Linked DNA regions of Homo sapiens. The protein of the gene in region 2 interacts with the protein of the main gene of each other region in a pairwise test. Each region holds a gene or a part of one and is shown on either strand. Other genes may lie near its edges.

Evidence for each region.
Region 1: the proteins of SCGB3A2 (region 2) and MARCO come close enough for resonance energy transfer, tested with the Homo sapiens proteins (one study listed by BioGRID).

Annotation. Positions count from the first base shown.
Region 1 is NC_000002.12:118,940,156-118,944,078, forward strand, and holds the start of MARCO (macrophage receptor MARCO), read left to right. Parts: upstream 1-2,038; 5' UTR 2,039-2,145; coding exon 2,146-2,242; intron 2,243-3,923. UniProt on the Homo sapiens protein: Pattern recognition receptor (PRR) which binds Gram-positive and Gram-negative bacteria. Also plays a role in binding of unopsonized particles by alveolar macrophages. Binds to the secretoglobin SCGB3A2.
Region 2 is NC_000005.10:147,877,120-147,881,042, forward strand, and holds the start of SCGB3A2 (secretoglobin family 3A member 2 precursor), read left to right. Parts: upstream 1-1,591; 5' UTR 1,592-1,684; coding exon 1,685-1,739; intron 1,740-3,923.

The DNA.
Region 1 (3,923 bases), on a different chromosome or scaffold from region 2:
TAGCACAGTGTCTGGCATTAACAGTAAATCCTGGATAGGAATTAATGCTTGCACAAGCCATTACTCTGTGTGGAAGTTCAGAGAAGTAAGTCAACCAAGGTCACACAGAAAGTTAATGAAAGAGTTGAATTTGGGACCCAAGTCTCTCTGGTCTCTAGCCAGAGGTGAAGTGACTACACTTGACATCCACTAAGTGCTTCCTTTAAGAACAGGGATCCTCAATAATTAGCCCATGACATTTTCTAATAAGTCCCCTCCCCACACCCATGAGAATCAAAGATGAGCTGACCAGGCAGAGGCAGAGGGAGAGCAGGGAGCTCTGCCAGGCTAAGTGAGCGGGTTCCTTTGCCTAGGGGACTGCCCTCCAGTGGGCAAATCCCCTGTGTCCTCAATTATCTGGTCCTGTCTACCCCCCAGACTCTAGCTGGAGCCATCACTTCCTCATTTCCAATTTTCCTCTTTAAATTTTTCTGTCCTGGCTTCTGCTGCTTGTCCTCTGGCGGAACCAGTGACTTCCTGAATGTTGAAATTGTGGGCGCCACGGGGGACCTCTGCTTTTCAGGGCACTGCTAGGAGCTCACTTTCCTGAGTTTCATCCCCTTTCACTTTCTGACATACCACGGGCCAAAGAAAGTGACTTCGCCTGGCACAGCTTCACTTCCTGCCACCTGTCTTCCTCACCTCTTACATTTCAAATAGGCCAAAAGTCTACGGCTCCCCTGCTCCAGGCTGTCCCACCTCTGAGAGGCTGCACCTGCCCTCCTTCCTCCCTGGAGGGCCTTTGCCTCATCTTGATCTGGATCAATCCCCCATTATCCTTTTAAGCCCAGCTCTGGTATCTGATATCTCTTGATTCAGATGATAAAGCTATTTGTCATATTTCTGCCCTGTCTCCCCTGCCTCCCGGCACTTCTGTCTTTTCAGGGACATCAACCTTTGCCGCACTTCACAGCAATTTTCTGGAATGTAGTTGTAGCCGCAACCATCTTGCATGGTAGACTGTGAATATCTTTCATGAAAAAAGGCCATTTCTTCATCTCCTCGGTGCCCAGCAGGCTCACAATGTCTCTAATGATAATAACAACAACATGACCATAGTGTTTATTACCTAATACTTCCATCCTAGCCACCTTATATGATTTAATTCATTTAAGGCTCACGAAATTCATATCTTCCTTATTTATACAAACAGAAGAGTGAGATGCTCAAAGCTCAAGTGATTTGCCTACTGCCAGACAGCCCCTATGTGGAAGAGGTGGAATTTGAAGCCAGGCATTCTAGCTCTTAGTGTCTGTGTCTTAACCACCATGCTATACAGCATCCCTGGTAGAGATGCCTGACGGGAGGGAGAGAGGGGAGAAGCTACTTTCCTTAAGGAGCTCAGATCTCACTGGGGCCTGGACAAGGACACCTGTAACACATGTACACATGTGCACACATGTGTACACACACAGAGAGAGAACATGGGAAAACTACAAGAAGAAATACTAAGTGCTAAAATGTGTGGTTCAGAGCAAGGCTTCTCAAACTGTAATGTGTATATAAATCACCTGGGGATCTAGTTAAACTGTAGATTTGGATTTGATCTGATGGGGTGGGACCAGAGACTCATTGTTAGAACAAGTGAACTTGCATTTCTAACAAGTTCTCAGGTGATACTAATACTGCTGGTCCATGGACCACACTTTGAGCAGCAAGGATGAACTCTAAAGGTTGAGGCAGGTCAGAGAAGGGAGATTTCACTGTGGGCTGGAGAGGTCCTGGGACAGAGAGCTGAGTCTGGGCCCATGGCAGGGCTTGGTTGGCCCTCTCTGGAGCCATCCAGCTTTTGGGTCTCAGGGACCTGGGAGTGACGGGTGCATTCAGAGGCCCGTAACTTGTGTCCCAAAGCCTCCTCGATCCCCCTTAACAAGCAGCAGCACTGTGTGGGAGATCCACATGTGAATAGCCCGTGTTTGAGAAATGTCCAATCCTGATCATGTCAGGAAACATCCTGCAAATTCTGAAATCAGAGCCAAAGGGAAGTGCTGCGAGGTTTACAACCAGCTGCAGTGGTTCGATGGGAAGGATCTTTCTCCAAGTGGTTCCTCTTGAGGGGAGCATTTCTGCTGGCTCCAGGACTTTGGCCATCTATAAAGCTTGGCAATGAGAAATAAGAAAATTCTCAAGGAGGACGAGCTCTTGAGTGAGACCCAACAAGCTGCTTTTCACCAAATTGCAATGGAGCCTTTCGAAATCAATGGTAAAGTACGATTCCCCAATAATGGAAATGACCAGAAATGTAGTCTTTCTGCTAGCGAGATACGAAAATAGACAAGTCAATAGAAAGTCTAGGTTTGGCTTATTGCTGCATTTTGCACGTAATCATCACTAATACTGTCTGGAGTGCTTCAATTTGGAATTTCTGGAATGCTAATAATAGATGCTGTATTTTTAGCATATAGTCAGGTTTTTCTTAGCTTCACTATTGTTTTAATCATATTTAAATATTTTCCCTTGAAAAAATGCCAATGCTTATTAAATGTCCCCTTTTTTTAATGAATGTCTTATTCTGACACACAGGTTGGGTGATACAATGAAAACGCAAAACAGGGGCACTGAAAGGGGACCACAAAACTGAAGCCAAGCATGACAGTTTTCAAAACACAGCTTCTTTAAAATTCTTTAAGGGGATTTCTGTTATAACTGATGTGCTGGTCAGGAAACATATTCTGTATTTCATGTTGACTGAAATATGTTCATAGCTTCATAATTAGTTTGTCTTAGGTTAAACTCAGGTCTGTAATATTCAGTCAACTCTGTTGTCTTTATTTTCTCACTCAGCATTCAACAGGTGATGCATTTTTAAAATCTTCTAGAATTTGTAGCATTTGAAGTCATGGGTGGGCTTGCATTCCACAAATGAGCTCTGATTTCCTAGTCTAGAACGTTCTCTTGGGATCATCTTCCAAGTTGATCAGTCATTTCCACTCCCAGGCTTTGCTGGAAGTTGTCTATGCAGGAAAATTGGTGGCTTTATCTCCTGGCCAGAGTGTCCTTCTCATCCCACACCTGTCTGCCCAGGTCCCTGCCTGGAATTTTCAGCGCACAAAGATGAAGCGTCTGGGGCTCTGCCTCTAGGAATTTACAGTGTAATAACAGAGAAAGGTGTGAGTGCTAATGGCTATAATAATCATTGGCTATTTAGAACTTCTCAGAATGCAACATTCTGGATACATGACTGTTTAAGAGACTGAAGATGTTCAAGCAAAGTCAGCTGATCAAGCATACTCAGCACCTATTTCCAGCAGGGCACTGCACTCAGCACTGAGGAAACAGGCTTGAATAAACATAGCCTCTGGCCTCTGGCTTCTGGCACGAGGGGACAGGGGACAGGGTAAGCTGCCCATGAACTGACAATTTCCATGTTGTGACTGAGACTTCCACAGGACATGATGGACAGATCTAACCAGGTGTAGAGCCCTGGAGGGCAGAGCTGACACCTCTTCCAAAGTTTAAAGGATAAAGGGAGTCCGTTAGAGAAAGAAGTTAGTGCCTGGGGCGGGGTGGGCGCCACATGTTTGTATTGTATTCACAAGAAATATTCAGAGAAATATAAATACTTCCATACTGTTTGGCCAAAATTGGGACGGAAAGACCAGTGGGGACTGAGGCTGGAACCAAAAAATTTGACTTCATCCTGAGGTCAGTGGGGAAGCAGGAAGGGGCCGATGTGGGGCTGAAAGGCACTAATGTGCATGTGAGGTTGCTCTTTGTCCTACATAGGGATGGCTGGAGAGAGAAGCTGAGGACAGAGAGGAACTTGGCAGCAAGAGATGATGAGGGGCAGTGGATGGAAGGCAGGAAAATAAAGGAATGCTCTGGAGAAACACCGGAAATCAGATCAATTGGACTGCAATGGCAGGACAGGGCTGGGGAGGAAG
Region 2 (3,923 bases):
ACAAAAATAAACTCGCTTCTTTCCCAGTTCACCTGTATCTCATCATTGGACCACGAGAGCAAGCAGCTGGACCCTGTTCCTCCGGCAACGGCATCAATCTTACCACCAACCTTGGCTCTTTGAGGGGCTTGGTATATTAATATCACTGGCATCAGTGGGAATATGTGGGAGAAATGGAAGCAGTACTGGTAGAGAAAGAAGGAGAAGTGGCAGGATTGAGGTGCATGGCAGGCATTCATGGTGTCTTTCATGTAGTTTATAAAGTAGTTTATAAAGTAGCAGAAAGATAAAGAAATGACAGTTACAACATGGTAACATAAAAATTAGTAAAATGTGACATAAATTAGATATTAATTTTGGTTTGGCATAGCAGAATGCTCTGTCTGCATAATTTTATTAGATCTTCATTACAATACCACACCCTCAGATGAGGACAAATAAAGCCCCAACCTCTGGCCTTACATCTTAAGGTGTGTTTTCTCAAAATTTTCTGGGTTCCACTTTGGTGGTGGGAATGGCTGGAGCCAGCAGTACCACGTGGCCGGGGAGCCCTGAGCTGGTCCTGTGCCCATATGGACTCCGCTTTCTATTTCACCCCTTCATGGTTCTTTCTTACCCTCTTCCTTGCATGTCGGGCCCACTCGATGCCCCAAAGAACTCCAGGACTTCTGCTCACAAATGAAGTTGTCCTGAGGTCCTGTGGCTGAACCCTGGATCCAGAAAGACAGCCTTGGAAACAAATTACTACTCCTGTAGCCAGTACCTTACAATTACGTATTTTTGAATGATTTTATCGGATTTGATTGCCAAAGAATCTTGCAAAAACAATTTTTTCCCCAAGCTACACACCTTATGGTTGGTTGTGTTATTTATGTTCCCATTTTAGATGAGAGGACCAATATCCTAGATTAAAAATGTCAAATCCAAGATTACACAAACAGTGAAAATTGAATCCCAGGTTTTTCAAAAGACACTCTGATTTTAGATCTTAAGCCTATTATTCTATCCAAAGGCTCAGAGAAGACATGCTCTGAACATACTCAAAGTAACTGACACTGGAAAAGGTAACAGAGGTGTGAAAATCTTACCATAGTAGATGTGTGAGTGGGCTGGGGGCAGGTGAATTCCAGAGAAATGTGGCACTAAATGTCATGAAGCTGACTCTGTATTATACCAGAGTGGCCTCCAGATTGCTTTCACAACTGGGTAGTTCATCAGCTAATGTGATTCTCCAAACTTTAAATGATTAGAAAACTGGGGAAAAATGTAGAAAACCAGAGGAAAACACTCCTTCTAATCCAAATATAAATTCTTCACTTCTTTTCAATGTTCTTCCAGGAGAAGGATTCGTTGGGCTCTTTGCCTTCTGCTTTTATTTCTGTGCAAGGGTTTATGCAAGAGGTACTTGAGAATGCTGTACTGTAGAGCTTTGTTTCTCATGGGAACACACGGGGAAGTGGAAAACCCTCCAAATTGTTTGGTGAGAAAACATAACATTTATCCCTTTCTTTGGTGGGGTGAGTCAAGTGGTAGGGACTAGAATTCAGGTCCTCAATGGGCATATAAATATGTGTGTGCAAAAGCAGCCATCACACTTTGTATGGCAAGTGGAACCACTGGCTTGGTGGATTTTGCTAGATTTTTCTGATTTTTAAACTCCTGAAAAATATCCCAGATAACTGTCATGAAGCTGGTAACTATCTTCCTGCTGGTGACCATCAGCCTTTGTAGTTACTCTGGTAAGTAACTGGAATACATCTGGAATATGTGACATTTCTTTACTTTTCTGTTAATAAGAGCACAACTAGTAAGCCTTGCCTCACTGACAGTGGAATATGGTGGTAGGAATTGTATTTTTTTTTATTTTACTTTTAACTGACACATAATAATTGCACATATTTGCAGGGTTGGAAGAAGTTTTGGAATCACAGAAAATGGTGATGTTGGAAAGTATTTCAGATCCCCACCATCTAAGCTCTAGCCCAATATAAGTATTCTAATACATCCTACATAGGAAGTTAGCCAACTTCCACGGAGGGTCAACAAAGCACATTTCACTGCTGGATATTGGTCACCATTCGTTTTTCTTATTTTCCTCAATTTTGAGTTAAAATTTGACTTTATAATTTCTTTTGTGCTTTTGAACTATATGGAGTCATTCTTGCTATCATCTCCAGTTATCCAATTTGCTAGCTTGGTTCTCCTGAGATAGCTACATTCATCTGTTTATCCACTCAATGGATATTTATTGAATGGCTACAATTTGTTGGGCACTGGATAGGCATTGGAAGATTTAGACATGAAGCAGTCATAAATATTGTTCTTAAGGTGCTACTCTGGTAGGATAGATAGGGCTTCTGCCTAAGTTACTATAATTCTAGACTACTGTAAACGTACTGTGAGATATCCAGATAGAACTCTTTTAGTGTATTGGTGGGTGATTAGTTTAATTTTCAGGTAAGGGTATAGAAGCTGGCTTCTTGGAGGAGAATGGGAACTGATTTATTTTTTTGGAAGGAATCATTGTAACTATCAGGAAGACAGTGTGGGCACATGGGAAAAAGAGATTTCATGATAGCCACTGCTCATTGAGAGAACAGAAGGCTTTGAAGATCTTCTCCCAGGAAGCTGTAAACACATACAGAGAAGATATTTACCAAAATGTCTGAAATAAGAAGTATGGAGATTAATAATGAAAAATTGATTGCCGCCCACACCTACAATGGCAACTTTGGCTTTTGATGTTTATTGAATTTCTGAAGGAATTTGTAACTTCACCAGTTTTGGATATTTCACTGTTCTCTAATGTCCAGGGACAGGTATCTATGGGCAAAGTGGCAGCAGAAAGGAGGTGGGGAAAATAAATACCGCCCCCTCTGGGTGAGAATTTTGGAGGGACAATAGGTGATTGAAAATTTAAAAAAATATATACAGGCTCCATTTTAATAATTTGAATGGGGAAATAATAGGTTTCCAAAGGAAAATAAACTATGGCAGGTCTTAGCCAGTAGGAGGATGTGTGTTCTTACGTGTGTGCTCACATGCATGTGTGCATTTATATATCTGCACATGTTTTTGTAAAAAATACATCGTACATATTTTCCTCAATCTCTACTTTTTCCCACCATTCATCTTCTACGGGAAAGTTATCTTCCTAAAGCCAAAGATATAAAACGTAATTTTCCTATGTAAAAGCCTTGATAGCGCCCCACTGCCCTCAGGAAAAAAAAATCCAAACTCCTTTGTGTGACATCCAACACTTTAAAAAATCTGACCTCACTCAACTTTTGCAGCCTCACTCCCTTTATCTTCCATCCTTTGGTCATAGCCTATTGGAAATCTGCACTCCAGCCTTCTGGGCAGAAGGCTCACCATCCTGTGTATGCACTTTTATCCTAATGGTTCCGTGCCTTTATTGGTCATGTTTCTAAAATGCTTCTCCTCTTCTTTACCTTATGATCCTGACATTTGCCTCAAGACATAGCTCTAACAGCACTTCTGGAAAATTCCTGCAGCACTCTTTCATGTTAGAATTAGTCATCCCTTTCTTGTGTTTCCATGGAGCTTTGTCCATAATGTTAGCATAGCACATGCTACACTGTGGCATACACAGATCTTCTATCACCAACTGGACTGTGTGAAGTCTCTGAATGGGCATCCTTGTCTTATTTGTCTATGTATCTGCACAGACTAGATAGAGTTGGTGCTCAATTATGTTTGTAGCGTTGAGTTGAATTGGTTGGGAGCAGTTTCTTGGGCTGTGGTTGGGTCCATTCCTGTCTTTATGTGGAGATTCACTATAGCATCTCTCCTTTAGCCTCAAAGCTGTGAGCTGTGGAGACAGTCACATACAAAATACCATCGCCTTCAGACAATCACAATGATCTGTTGAATGCTTACGCTGCCAGGGTCAGTTGTAGGCA